2 linked regions of the Homo sapiens genome follow. The protein of the gene in region 1 purifies or fractionates together with the protein of each later gene. This does not show direct contact. Each region holds a gene or a part of one and is shown in the gene's direction. Other genes may lie near its edges. The genes, in order: NBAS and ACVR1.

The links.
Region 2: the proteins of NBAS (region 1) and ACVR1 purify together in Homo sapiens (co-immunoprecipitation; one large-scale study listed by IntAct). This does not show direct contact.

What each region holds. Positions count from the first base shown.
Region 1 is NC_000002.12:15,470,687-15,474,511, reverse strand, and holds part of NBAS (NBAS subunit of NRZ tethering complex), read left to right. Parts: intron 1-187; coding exon 188-445; intron 446-1,164; coding exon 1,165-1,290; intron 1,291-3,825. UniProt on the Homo sapiens protein: Involved in Golgi-to-endoplasmic reticulum (ER) retrograde transport; the function is proposed to depend on its association in the NRZ complex which is believed to play a role in SNARE assembly at the ER. Required for normal embryonic development.
Region 2 is NC_000002.12:157,764,556-157,768,380, reverse strand, and holds part of ACVR1 (activin receptor type-1 precursor), read left to right. Parts: intron 1-2,184; coding exon 2,185-2,460; intron 2,461-3,825. UniProt on the Homo sapiens protein: Bone morphogenetic protein (BMP) type I receptor that is involved in a wide variety of biological processes, including bone, heart, cartilage, nervous, and reproductive system development and regulation.

The sequences.
Region 1 (3,825 bases):
TGTGCATATTTCTGATGTATATAATGCTTGCTGTAAGGTTCCTTTGAGTTCCATTGTTAATCTTGATCACATAGCTGATTTAATGAATCAAACCAGAGTAGATTTAGAAATATATTTTCTTTCATTAATTCTAAAAAGTTATTCTTATTTCCTTACTATTAACTTCAAATCTCCTTTTTCAATTTAGTGTGAGATTAAACTTGCCCCCAAACGATCTCGTTTGGAGACTAGAGCTGGAGAAGAAGATGAAGGAGAAGAGGATTCTGATTCTGATTATGAAATATCTGCCAAGGCTCGCTACTTTGGTTATATAAAACAGGGCCTTTACTTGGTGACTGAAATGGAGCGATTTGCACCACCACGGAAACGCCCACGAACCATTACTAAAAACTACCGCCTTGTGAGTTTGCGCTCCACGACACCAGAGGAACTTTATCAGAGGAAGGTGAGAGAGTAGCATATTACTACCCAAGTTTGAAGTCATCAAGCTTTTCTTTTATTGAGAAAAAGTTAATTTTTTAATAAAGGAGAAAATTTCAAGAGGGATGTTGGATCATTGACATGTTAAAAATATCAGTTCTATAAAGCTTTTTAAAATAATGCTAATCTTTGTACCTAAATAATCAAAATCAAAACCATGGATAAAAATTGAATTCACTTAGACTGATTATCCACTTGGTGGCTTAGCTCATTTCTTTGCTACCCTTCATGTGGCCTTCAGCTCTCCCTTTATCTGTGTTTAAATCAGCCATCTACAGAGGGTGAAGGAAGAAGTTCAGACTTGCTTTCTAGTCCAGGGCTTGCTTGGGAAGCCGAGGTGACCAGCACTGTGTGTTCACGTGATTTGTGCTGTTCTTGCAATGTCGTGGTAGGAGCTCTGGACTAGAAGCCGGGTTGTTCCATGGTTGTCTTGGTTTTGCCGCTGTTTTACTCTAAAACGAGAGCTTTGCACCTTTTATCTCTCATCTTTCTGTTGAAGTGCTGAAAGAAACACGAGATCTTTCTGCTCCTCAAAATATCTGTGAGCTTCTGGTGCCACAGTGCACAGGAATTAGTGACATGCTGGATAAGTCCAAGGGATTATCATCATTCATTGTATCATCATCAGGACCCTGTGGATAATTCAGTCATGTAACATTCCTGTCCTCGTGTTTTTATCTGAAGATTGAAAGTGAAGAGTATGAGGAAGCCTTGTCCTTGGCTCATACCTACGGCCTGGATACTGACCTTGTATATCAGAGGCAGTGGAGGAAGTCAGCGGTCAACGTTGCTTCAATTCAGAATTATTTGGTATGTTTAAATATTTTGGTAATGTGGTAAAATGTATATTCATGTAATATCTTTTGTTTATAGGGCTTCATTTTAGAGTACTTTACATTGCTGACTTTTCTATAATACAGCCAATGAAGTACAATTTTCTCAGCTGGAAAAATGGTCTTTTTGTTAGATTTTATTGCCCCTGCAACTGGACTTTGATGCTGAATACATGTGAACAAATATTCACAGATAAACCAGCTAACTACTTGGTCTCGGCCTAACGTTTTCTTTCCTGTACCACAATCACTTCTCTTTACCTGCATGAGTCAAGAGCTAGTCAGATGCCAGAAATCACACAGTAATTTAAACAGGGAAATTTACAATATGGAGAATTATTTTCTAGTAACCAGAGATGAACTATAAAGGATGTGAAGAGAACGCTAAGGACTACCCTAGGGCTGAAGGGACATATCCATGAAGGGAATGAACTTGGAAGGGAGGCCCCTCCCCTAGGCTGGGATTCAGACCCATTGGACCAGGAGTGGTTGCAGCATGTAGGATGGAAGAGAAGTTCTCTGGGTTGCCTTGAGCCAGGGCTGGTCCACGGTTGCCAAGGTTGGCAGTCAGGGAGATATGGGATGGATAGGAAAGCTGGACGCCTGCTTCTGGGGGGGGCCAGTGAGCTGAGGTTGGGGTTTAGAAGACCCCAGGGACTAGGAAGCAGGAAACCCCTACCAGCATGCATGTGGCTCAAGGCTGGTAGATAATTAAGGAATCATGGCCAAGACTGGCAAGAAAAAACTGTCTACTCCTATAGGCAGCCTTACTGTAGCTTCCAGTCTGGGAAGCTTCCCTCTCAGGTGCCTGGGTGATTCACTAGAAAACAATCTGCCCATGAGAGTGTCACTGAAACTCAGTGGGAGGTTGTCAACAGAGGGAGGAAGCGGGGAAGTAAGTGCCACTTGATGTTGCCCACGTGCCTTGTTGGTGGCCAAGCCATAGGAGCAAGAAGAAAAGAACCAAAGCACATCAGGACTAGAAAGCAGAGCCTCTTCCTTTGCAGTGGCCCTCCAGCACCCAGAGCTTAAAATCGTGTCAACCACAAATGAGATATGCTACCACAGAGCTGGCTTTGAGGGGAAATTTGGAGCTGAGAGGCAATAAATAGGTAACATATATGAAAACTGCGAAATATGCCTTTTTAAAACTTAAATCTCAAAACTGGATACTTCCTGTTACCTGCCTCCCATAGTTAAGGTTAATATAGTCTTGTCTCAATTAGTTTTAGCCGCTGCAACAAAAATATCAGACTATGTGGTTTCAACAGCAGAAATTTATTTCTCTTAGTTCTAGAGGCTGGGAAGTGCAAAATCAAGGTGTTAGCCAATTTCGTTCCTGGTGAGGGCACTCTCCTGGTTTGCAGATGGATTTCTTTCTTGCTGTGTCCTTATATGGCAGACAGCAGAGAGAGAGAAAGAAGGCTCTCTACTGCCTCCTCTTATGAGGACACCAATCCTATCATGGGGCCTCCACTCTCATGACCTAATTGCTTTCTAAAGGTCTCATTTCCAAACATCATCACTCTGGGGATTAGTTTTTCAACATATGGATTTTGGGGGACATATTGATTTCATAGCAAGCCTATATGTTTTAACCTTTGGCATCTTTGTAAGAAAGAATTATAGTTAGACTCATGGCATACTTTTAAAAAGGTTGAGACTTCTGATCTTAACATATAGAAAGGAAAATACCTTTGCATTGTGGAAGATTATAGGAAACACTGGGAAAATTTCATGATGATTATTTCCCTAAAAGTTTTATACGTTAGTAATTAAAAGTAAAAATATAACATGAAAAAGTTGTATGGAAGAAGATGATGCATCAGCCAAACAGGATGATAAACCTAACATTAATACAAGCAAGATATCAGAGGTGAAAGAGCATGAGAGGTAATGAAACGGAAGAAGATAAAGTTGCTTGTATTTTCTTTAGAAAATCAAAACACTAATTCTGTATTATTTTTCTTTCTTGTTTTGTGATCTAAGACAATGAGCTCATGAGTTCATGTATATCTTTTTCTGGGATACAGTAAAGGACAGTTTTTGTCTCTGAGGGAGTTGAGGGATGTTAAGAGAGACAAAGCAAGTACTTTTTTGGGGAGGGGAATATTTCGTTTAGTTAAATAGACAGTTAAGAGCAAGAGCACTATGCTAGGGACTGTGAAGGGGTACAGGACAGGCATAAATGTGGCTTTTGCTCATAGGGAGCTTATGATTTTTTTTGTTTTGTTTTGAGATGGAGTTTTGCTTTTTTTTGCCCAGGCTGGATTGCAATGGTGCGATCTCGGCTCACTGCAGCTTCTGCCTCCCTGGTTCAAGTGATTCTCCCGCCTCAGCCTCCCAAGTAGCTTGGGACTACAGGCACACAACACCACACCTGGCTAATTTTTGTATTTTTAGTAGAGACGGGGGTTCACCATATTAAAAATAACTGGCCGTATAAGTAGATTTCAGATACAACTCTAGAAACCCAGTGAAGATAGTGATTATTATAGATCTGGTAGAGATG
Region 2 (3,825 bases), about 140 Mb from region 1:
TTTTTTAAGAAAATCATTAAAGATTAGTATTATTTGGTTCAAACTGTTAAAGCAGAAACATTTTCTTTATTAAGAATAACTAATGTCCAAGAACACATTTTGATGCATATTGTGGCCAGCTAAGGGCTCCAAGAGAAGCAGCATCGAGGGGAAAAGCAGACTGGGGAGCAGGGAAGGAGTGGGAGACTCAGGGCTGGCCATGGGAATAGGCTTAGAGGAAGAGAGAGAAAGAAGTAGAGGGTGAAGGTGCTAAAATATTATTCAGTTTGCTTTGCATATGTCCCATAGGTGAAAATGTGAAATTATTTTTTCTCTGAGTAGAAATCAGTTTGTTTGGGGACAGTATGGCATAGTCAGTAAGAGTCTGGGTTCTAGAATCAGACCTACAGGAACCTAATATCAATTATGCGATCTACTTACTTCATGTGGTTTTTGGAGGATTGCATATAAAGTTCCAGGCATGTAGTACTCAATAATTATTAGCTGCCTCTGTTGTGGTTGCCGATGATGATGATGATCAAATAGGGGACCTTTCTTGGCTCACAGAGCCTTCCTATGCAAGGTATCAGGACAGCTAGCACTAAATTCAGAGTTGATAGCAACTTAAATAGCTGTGTGATCCTTGGCATCTCCCAGCACCAACTTTATTATCTGTAAAATGAGCATAATGATGTCTTTCTTACCAGCTTGTTGGGAAAAATCTCATGAGAAAATATATGTGAAAGTGACATAAATTTTATATAAAGTACTATGCAAGTATAAAGCATTTTAATGTATTTTCTCTTACATTTTCATAAGTCATTTAATTCTTCCTCAAGCCATATCCGTCTTAAAAAATTTTTTTTCTCACCTCTTTTTAAGTCCCAAACTTCACTGTCTACCAGCGTGGTTCATATATGTGAGAATAATCCTAGAAAGGCACCTCTGTAGCAGAAAAGGCAAGCACACGTCACAATTTATTTCATAAGATAGGAAGTGCCCCTAACTTCCAGACAGTCTTCTGCATGCTCAAAAGTTCCCTCCAGATGTCTAGAAAAATCTCTTCCGGGCTGATCGCGATGTCTCACGCTTGTAATCCCAGCACTTTGGGAGGCCAAGGCAGGTGGATCACCTGAAGGTCAGGAGTTTGAGACCAGCGTGGCCAACGTGGGGAAACCTCATCTCTACTTAAAATATAAAAAATTAGCCCGGCGTGATGGTGGGCCCCTGTAATCCCAGCTACTCGGGAGGCTGAGGCAGGAGAATCACTTGAACCCAGGAGGCGGTGGTTGCAGTGAACCGAGATCGCGCCATTGCACTCCAGCCTGGGCAACAAGAGGGAAACTTCGTCTCAAAAAAAAAGAAAAAGAAAAAGAAAAATCTTCTCCAACCTCTTCATCCACATTTGTCAGTCACTCACTTTACTTCAAGACCAGTTGAGTTGCCACTTCCTAATGGAAGCCTATTGTAACACCTAGTCTGAATTACTATAATTTCCTGCTCTGGGCTCATGTTGCCCTTTGAAGATATATATTATAGTACTTTTCGTATTTTATTGTAGTGTTTTCGTTTTTACATCTGTCTTCTTTAGCCAGCAAACACTATCATCTTGGTTTTTCTGTGTGTGACTGACAGATAGCATCATAAATACTCATATATTTGGTTGGTTTCTTTTTTTATTTCGTGAATCAGTCAATCATTTAATGTAAACTTGCCCCCTTTATTTTACATCTGAGCAGATATAGGCTAAGGAGCCTAACTGAGTTGCCCAGTATTAGACAAGTAAATCACAGGCAGAGTCAGGACTAGAATACAGTACTCAGGTTTTAGATTTGATGTTCTTTTAGGATGGTTGATGAATGGTCTGTTCCTAAAATATCAACATGCTGAAGGGCTTGGCACTATCATTATGGGTGAGCACAAAGATATTATTGCTATCTGAAACTTAAGGAATGTAAAATATCTTTTAAAGTATTACTTATAATGAAATGAATATGAAATTTTCCTATTAGCAGTGCCCTTTTAAGGAATAAATGCTATTATTTTTCTCTGTTGATGCTTCTGTAAACCTCCTCTTAGGGCAATTGGTCAGTTTAATTACTTTTTGTTACAGATGACATTTACTGTGTAGGTCGCTATTTCTAAATACTTTAAGTTATAATGTGGAATCCTCATGTATATTAATTTTTTTCTTGCTCTCTCCAGGTTTCATTGCTTCAGACATGACATCAAGACACTCCAGTACCCAGCTGTGGTTAATTACACATTATCATGAAATGGGATCGTTGTACGACTATCTTCAGCTTACTACTCTGGATACAGTTAGCTGCCTTCGAATAGTGCTGTCCATAGCTAGTGGTCTTGCACATTTGCACATAGAGATATTTGGGACCCAAGGGAAACCAGCCATTGCCCATCGAGATTTAAAGAGCAAAAATATTCTGGTTAAGAAGAATGGACAGTGTTGCATAGCAGATTTGGGTAAATTTCTAAAAATATTTTTTTCCTCACCAGTTTTATTTTTGTTTCAATGGTTAGGTGAGTTGCATCTCTCCCCCACAACATGTTATGCAAAATTTCAAACATGCAGAAAAGTTGAACATTTACAATGAACACCTTTATACCCACCACATAGATTCTCACATTAACATTTTACTATCCTTAAGCATTATTATGTATTTATTCATCTATTCATCTCCCCATCCATCAGTCCATATCAACCTTTGATAGAGTTGAAAGTAAATTGCAGACAAAGGAATTCTTTCTTCTGATGATTTCAGCATGTACACTAGTATATCATTGACAAGAATGCATTATTTGCTTTTTCTTTTTTTCAGGTAAAATTTATATACTGTGAGATATACAAATCTTAAGAGTTTTGACAAATGTTGTAAAACCCAAATCCCTGTCGAGATACAGAGTTTCCCATTACTCTTGACAGTTACCTCAGGCTCATTCAGTCAGTCCCTGCCACACCCCACCTCAGAAGTAACCAGTACTGTTGCATTTTGGTTTCACTAACCTTCACATAAAGTAGGTGCACAATAAATACTCTATAGAATTAGTTTATCTTAAAAGTGGTCTCTAAAATCATTCTGTAACCAAGGCAAAAGAATCAAGTTAAGAAATAGGAAAATAATCCCCGAACTGATTCACTCTTTTCCCTGTTAGGATAGCTCATTCTTATGGTGTTAGAGTAGTACTCAGTGTAGCTTTAGTTGCATTATAAATAAGAGTATTTTCATTTATAGTGGCATTTTATATAAAACCATGTTCTTCCTGGATTCCTAGAATATTGGCTAAATAATTGTGCTAATGAGAATTCAGGGCCCTCTACTTGATTAAACATGGTTTATATGATATTTATATTATTGCAATTATTGTTAGCCTGATAAAGGTTTAGACAAAAATAGCTTTAGTTATGTAAATAACAAAGTTTATTTTTGTTTGTTTTTAAACATAAGGGATTTGACATGTTAGGAAAATTTATTTCCTTTGAATCCCTTTAAAGTCTTTGCTTTTACATTGAGAAATTACAATGTTTCCCAAGTAGGAGACGAAAGATTTTAGGATAAGCATTGAAAGAGCATGGCCCTAAAGTTTTTTGCAGGCATTTTTAGTTGTGGTGTAGAGGACTTTTATGGCTTATTCCATGGCTCTTAGAGCCAGGGCGATTTGGGTTTAAATTCTGGCTTTCTCAATTACCCTGTATTTTTGTGCAAGTCTATTTATCTATTTACCTGGCCCAAGTGCTGACACTGCTTTCACTCAGTGAGACAGGGACAGTGAGGGCGAAGGCGGATGGGGTTGGGAGTTAGCCAAGAGGAACTCCAGGGCTTGACGCTG